Linked DNA regions of Homo sapiens. The protein of the gene in region 1 interacts with the protein of each later gene in a biochemical or structural test. Each region holds a gene or a part of one and is shown on either strand. Other genes may lie near its edges.

Region 1 (3,500 bases):
GGCACCTGGAGCTGCCTGCCCCGCTGCAGCAGTCAGCACGTCTGTGCGCAGTGGCTGGACCCCACGCTCACTCACACACGCCTCGCTGTTCCACGCCTGACTCGCCCTTGGCAGGCTTGGGACCCAGGCTGGTAGTGTGAGCTGAATGCAGCCTGTCAGGCCAAGTGGGTGAAACAAGACCAGTGGGCCCAAGCAAAACTTGGGCAAAGGCGCCACCGGCCACAGAAGTTTCTGGCCAGAAAATCAACACCCCAAAGATCCTGTAACATTTTCATTGATATTTACAAACATGTAACAGTGAATAGTTCTCTAGTTATGTGAAGGCATACACATTCTGACAGAAATTCTGATTTTGGGAGTAGCTTTGCCAAGGTTCCTTTCTGTTTTGCAAAATGACAATGATTAAACTCACTTAAAGATTTTTATTGAATGATGACCAGTAGTTAAGCAGTTTATTATAAAAAATATTTTATTGTTACTTGTGCAGGTGTTCAAAGCTGAAACAGGAGAGAAACTTCTAGAAATCAAGGCTCATGAGGATGAAGTGCTTTGTTGTGCATTCTCTACAGATGACAGATTTATAGCAACCTGCTCAGTGGATAAAAAAGTGAAGGTAGGAAAATCTTTTCCTCTTGAGTTGTAATCACAACAGAATTCATTTTATTTTTCCATGATCATGAGACCAGAGTAAGTAGAGTTAAAGGACTCTCACCTGTTGATCTACTAACCTGATTCATTGTAAATTAACACTATCTGAAAATTCTTTACTTTTTTTTAAAGAGACAGGATTTTGCTCTGTGACCCAGGCTGGAGGGCAGTGGCATGATCATAGCTCACTGTAAACTCCAATTCCTGGGCTCAAGTGATCCTCCTGCCACAGCCTTCCAAAGTGTTAGGATTATAGGTATGAGCCACTGTGCGTGGCCTGAAAATTCTTTATTTTTAAACACCAGCAAAAATGCCTAGGTTGATCACCTCAGGATTAAACAAGCAGTGGGGAAAAGCAATGACAAATTAGTGAGTTTGTCTTCCATTAATAGACAAGTCCATGGGTTAAATATCAGTTGAAATCTTTGAGTGCATTGTGATTAGGAGTGTTGCTGCACAAACTTGGGGATTCCTGTTGTAAGATACAATTTTAAAATGCAACCCCAATTTTTTTAATTTGCTTATGAACTGGCTTATATATTCAGTGGAAAACCAGGTGGATGAACAAACTAATAATTACGTTACTGGTCTAAAAACATAAATAGAGAAAAGTAAACAGAGTAATTTTTACTTATTTATTTTGAGGCAGAGTCTTGCTCTGACACCCAGACTGGAGTGCAGTGGTACAATCTCGGCTCACTGCAATCTCTGCCTCCAGGATTCAATTGATTCTTATGCCTCAGCCTCTTGAGTAGCTGAGATCACAGGTGTGCACCACCATGCCCAGCTAATTTTTGTAGTTTTGGTAGAGACAGAGTTTTGCCATGTTGGTCAGGCTGGTATTGAACTTCTGGCCTCAAGTGATCCGCCTGCCTTTGACTCCCAAAGTGCTGAGATTATAGGCATGAGCCACTGTGCCCCGCCAGAGAGTAATTTTTATTTTTGTTAAGTATTCTCTTGTTCCTAAATTTGGCTTCTACCAGGAGCATTTATACTAATATAGAATTCAAGAGAAACTGAAGGCTTGTGGGGGTTATCACTGATATATGGAAGACAGACCTTACTTTAACCCTTTTTCAAAGGGGTTAAATCTGGAGTACTGGATGTAGCTAGGTGGAGTGGGCAAGAAATTTGCCTTGGGTGTTTTCCTGAAGTTTTCACCTACTGGAAGAGGGCTATGGAATGTCCAGACTAAATTTGAGACCTTGGAAAAATCTACCTCTTGATAGATTGGACTCGTGGCTTAACCAACAGTTAATTCACTCTGTAGTGTCTACTCTGACTCTGAGTCAGACTTGGAGGTGGCCACTGAGGGCAGTTCTAAAGTCAGAGCTACATGGAGTAAAAGGAAATAATAATGAGTTTCTGTTTTCTAAGCCAGAGGTAGAAATACCTATTAAAGAACTTTAAAATAAGATAAACTCTCTGGACCTCTGGGGATTCTAATCAGTGCTTTGATAACATACAAAGGAAATGCCAAAGGACATTAGTACCTCTAAAAAGTCAAAATCCCAGTGAAGGTTCATTAGGTAATTTATTTCTTTTGTTTGTTGTTATATGGCATAGACTGCTTAGTTGTCTTACATAGTAACTAGAATGATGATTAATTTTTTTGTTTTTTTTTTTTTTTTTTTGAGACGGAGTCTCGCTCTTTCGCCCAGGTTGAACTGCAGTGGCGCTATCTCGGCTCACTGCAAGCTCCGACTCCCGGGTTCATGCCATTCTCCTGCCTCAGCCTCCCGAGTAGCTGGGACTACAGGCGGCCGCCACCGCGCCTGGCTAATTTTTTGTATTTTTAGTAGAGACGGGGTTTCACCATGTTAGCCAGGATGGTGTTGATCTCCTGACCTCGTGATCTGCCCGCCTCGGCCTCCCAAAGTGCTGGGATTACAGGCGTGAGCCACCGCGCCCGGCCTGATGATTACTTTTTACTGAAAACTGAACACTATAAGAGGCTATAAATACTACACACTTTGTCATATTACATTATCAATTTCCTGCTACAGCTTGCAGGGTTAAGTGTCGATCCCGTTTACAGAAGAGGACGCAGATTCAGAGATGAAGTCTCTTGCTCAAGCTTACATTAAACTGGGAACAGTAATAGGGTTGAAAGCTGGGTTTCTCTCAGACTATAAAACCTTTATTTTTTTTAACTAAGCAATCTGCCTTTACTTATTTATATGGTACCTTGAAGTCCATAGAACACTTGTCATGTTCATTATCTCATTTGATATCTTAAATTGTGTGGGAGAGGTATAGATATCCCCATTTTACAGAAGAGGGAACTGAGATGCAGGTAAGTTAGGGATTTGTGACACACAAGTCATAAGTGGTAGAGCCAGCTCTTGGGCTCAACCCTTCTGACCAGAAATCTATTATGCTAACCTCTTTAAAGCACTTCTCTGCCTGCTTTCATTCATATAAACATGTGAAATCTTGCCCTTAAGAAATGTCATGTGTTCATGACACTCTAGTTATGCTATAGGTACATATATGTATATTTGCAAATAATTTTTTTTAAACATTAAGGCAAAATATTGCCATATTTTAGAAAGGGGAGAGGTTTCATTAGCATCTTGTCCAACTAGGAAAATCTGCTATGACAGGATAAGATAGCATTTGCAAAGCAATGGACATTGCTTTGCCCCTCTGTTCTCCCTTTGAAAATAATGGATATTTGTAAATTTTTTCTCTTTTCTCTTTAGATTTGGAATTCTATGACTGGGGAACTAGTACACACCTATGATGAGCACTCAGAGCAAGTCAATTGCTGCCATTTCACCAACAGTAGTCATCATCTTCTCTTAGCCACTGGGTCAAGTGACTGCTTCCTCAAAGTAAGTGTGGATATT
Region 2 (3,500 bases), about 30 Mb from region 1:
GCTAAACTGAAAATACTACCTAGGGAATGGGAATATTTGATTCTTGGATAAACTATTAGTTCACATTTACTATGTTCACAGAGGATACAAAAATCTAATTTTTAAAAAATTCTGGACCTAAAAATTTAATTATACATGTATGTCACTCCATTTACAGATATAAAGATAACTCGAGTAGTATCAGTAAGGCATAGCTAAGGTAGGGGCTCTCACCTCTGGGCTGTCCATTTTAATGACCTGGCAGACTTTTTAAAAACACTACAGGGTTCCACTCCCAGAGATTATGGTGTAATTGGTCTGAGGTAGGGCTGGGGTTTATTTTTGTTTTTTTAATCACTTGCAGTGCTTTAATATAATATATAGCCTGTGTTGAGAACCAGCTACAGAAGTATCAAGTGCCATAAGAAAGGCACAGGTTAAGTATTTTCTGAGTCCAGGAAAAGAAAAGATTGTTTTCACCTGAAAGGGAACTGGAACGTATGCTTGAAATGTATAGCATTTGACTGAATCTTGAACATACTGGTAGAATTTGGATGAGCTGAGATGGGAGAAAGGAAGGATACTGAGATAATAGTCATATAAGGGAAAGACATTGCAGCCTGACCCTGGTGCATGACAGAAACAGTGAGTAGCTTAGTTTATCCTCTGTAGACCTGAGGAGCTGTCTGAGAGCTGGAAATACTGGCTTCTTGGATATTTGATGTGTTATTTTGAACAAAGAAAACAGTAAGTGTTCTTGGTATCTTTCCTTTTGCCATTCTTCATACCCTCATCTATTTAGTACTTTTTCTTTAATTTTAGCTATTGCATTTTTTTTTTAGCCTGTCTTCTCTGACCAGAAGGAGGAAAAAGAATACAGGCAGGACAGCGAACTAAATTTGAGCCCCTATTTGCCACTATTACTGATGGAGTAATTATCTTAAATGTCTCCACTTTATTTTTTCTTTTTTTGTTTTAGAGACAAGGTCTTGCTCTATCACCCAGGCTGGAGGACAGTGGCTTCATCATAGCTCACTGCAGCCTCAAACTTCTGGGCTCAAGCAGTCCTTCTGCCTCAGCCTCCCCAGTAGCTAGGACAACAAGCACACACCACCATGCCTGGCTTTTTTGTTTGTTTGTTTTTGACACAGGATCTTGCTGTGTTGCCCAAGCTGGTCTTGAACTTCTAGCCTCAAGCTGTCCTCCCACCTTGGCCTCCTGAAGTGCTGCGATTACAGGCATGAGTCAATGTGTCGCCACCTTTTTTTTTTTTTTTTTTTTTTGAGAAAGAGTTTTGCTCTTGTCGCCCAGGCTGGAGTGCAATGGCACAATCTTGGCTCGCCTCCCAGATCCTCTTGCCTCAGCCTCCCAAGTAGCTGGGATTACAGGCATCCACCACCACACCCAGCTAATTTTTGTATTTTTAGTAGAGATGGGATCTCACCATGTTGGCCAGGCTGGTCTCGAACTCCTGACCTCAGGTGACCCACCTGCCTTGGCCTCCCAAAGTGCCTGAGATTACAGGCGTGAGCCACTGCGCCCAGCCAAGTCTCCACTTTTTATCCTAACGTTCGTAATAGAACTCCTTTGACTCGTTTTAAACCTTCCACAGGTTCCTCTGGCAAAACCTTTCTCATCTGATTCATGCTGATTCTCTTGAAGATAAAATTTTAATGTTGTAAAATGCTAATTAAGTGTCACTTAAATTTTGAAAAGACTTCAATGCTTTATTTATACATACATCTTTGCTATTCTAATTATTAATTAAGTAGATTAGGTAGTGAAAGCCACAAAATAGTCTTGGGATCTCATAAAATTAGAGTTGAGGCCAAGCGTGGTGGCTCACGCCTGTACTCCTAGCACTTTGAGAGGCTGAGGTGGGTGGATCACCTGAGGTCAGGAGCTTGAGACCAGCCTGGACAACATGGGGAAACCCCGTTTCTACTAAAAATACAAAAAAATTAGCCTGGTGTGGTGGTGCATGCCTGTAGTCCCAGCTACTAGTGAGGCAGGAGAATGGCCTGAACCCAGGAGGCAGAGGTTGCAGTGAGCCGAGATCGTGCCACTGCACTTCAGCCTAGGTGACAGAGTGAGACCCTGTCTCAAAAAAAAAAAAAAAAAAAAAATGGAGTTGAGATGGAAGGCAATGAATGATACACCATTTTGTTTCATCAGGGATTTTAAAATCAATATTCAGTCTCAATTATTTCTTTAAAACTTCAGTCTCAATTATTTCTTTAAAACTAATCCAGAAAAGAGATTTCTTGAACAGTTAAATGATTAATAACATTTTAATCACCTTTGTTGAGCCTAATACTCTTACATAGTCAATGACGTAGGGCATTGTTCAAGGCCCCTGCTAACACGTGTCACTTGTATGTGAATTAGAAAATTGTAATTCTATCTGGGAACGGTGGCTCATCCCTATAATCCCAGCACTTTTGGGAGGCCGAGGAGGGCAGATCACGTGAGGCCAGGAATTCGAGACCAGCCTGGCCAATATGGTGAAACTCCGTCTCTACTAAAAATACAAAAAATTGGCCGGGCACGGTGGCTCACGCCTGAATCCCAGCACTTTGGGAGGCCAAGGCTGGTGGATCAGAAGATCAGGAGATCAAGATCATCCTGGCCAATATGGTGAAACCCTGTCTCTACTAAAAATACAGAAAACTAGCCAGGCATGGTGGCACGTGCCTGTAGTCCCAGCTACTTGGGAGGCTGAGGCAGAAGAATCACTTGAACCTGGGAGGCGGAGGTTGCAGTGAGCCGAGATTGCGCCACTGCACTCCAGCCTGGCAACAGAGCGAGACTCTGTCTCAAAAATAAAAATAAAAATACAAAAAATTAGCCGGGTGTGGTGGCTCGCGCCTGTAATCCCAGCTACTAGGGAGGTGGAGGCAGGAGAATCGATTGAACCCAGGGAGGCGGAGGTTTCAGTGAGCCAAGATTGCGCCACTGCACTCCAGCCTGGGCAACAAAGGGAGACTCCGTCTCAAAAAAAAAAAAAAAAAATTGGAATTCCCTTCCCTTACATAGATAGGTTCCATGGCAAGTGCACACAATATGTAAGACAGAACACAGGCTAGATTTCAGCCCCACTTACTTGCTTGGCCAGCCACCCTTGTACAAGGCACGGCTGTACACAATAGCCCTAGCATTATGTGCTGTTTTCGTATAGCTACCCCTCAAGTTTTTAAATAACTGGAATAGTCCCCTTAGTGTTGGGGCTGGTGGCACAGAGGAATGGCAGAGAGAATGGAGCAGGCAGGTCATCTTTACCTACCTTTCACTACCTCTACCTCTAGCACATTCTAGTCCAAGCCTCTACTGTCTTCCGTGGCTTCTCACTGTTCTTTATACAATCGTTCCTTATACAGATGGACTAGTGACCCTTTCAGAATAAAATACATGCGACTGTCTTACCCAGAACTTTCTGATGCCTTCTTATTGCACTTGGAATAAAATCTTTCTTTTCTTGATGTACAAGAGTATACATACTTTTGTTTTGTTCTTTTTTTTTT

What was found.
Region 2: the proteins of APAF1 (region 1) and NUP107 form a complex in vitro, tested with the Homo sapiens proteins (one study listed by BioGRID).

What each region holds. Positions count from the first base shown.
Region 1 is NC_000012.12:98,679,790-98,683,289, forward strand, and holds part of APAF1 (apoptotic protease-activating factor 1), read left to right. Parts: intron 1-487; coding exon 488-613; intron 614-3,353; coding exon 3,354-3,485; intron 3,486-3,500. UniProt on the Homo sapiens protein: Oligomeric Apaf-1 mediates the cytochrome c-dependent autocatalytic activation of pro-caspase-9 (Apaf-3), leading to the activation of caspase-3 and apoptosis. This activation requires ATP. Isoform 6 is less effective in inducing apoptosis.
Region 2 is NC_000012.12:68,735,478-68,738,977, forward strand, and holds part of NUP107 (nuclear pore complex protein Nup107), read left to right. Parts: intron 1-3,500. UniProt on the Homo sapiens protein: Plays a role in the nuclear pore complex (NPC) assembly and/or maintenance. Required for the assembly of peripheral proteins into the NPC. May anchor NUP62 to the NPC. Involved in nephrogenesis.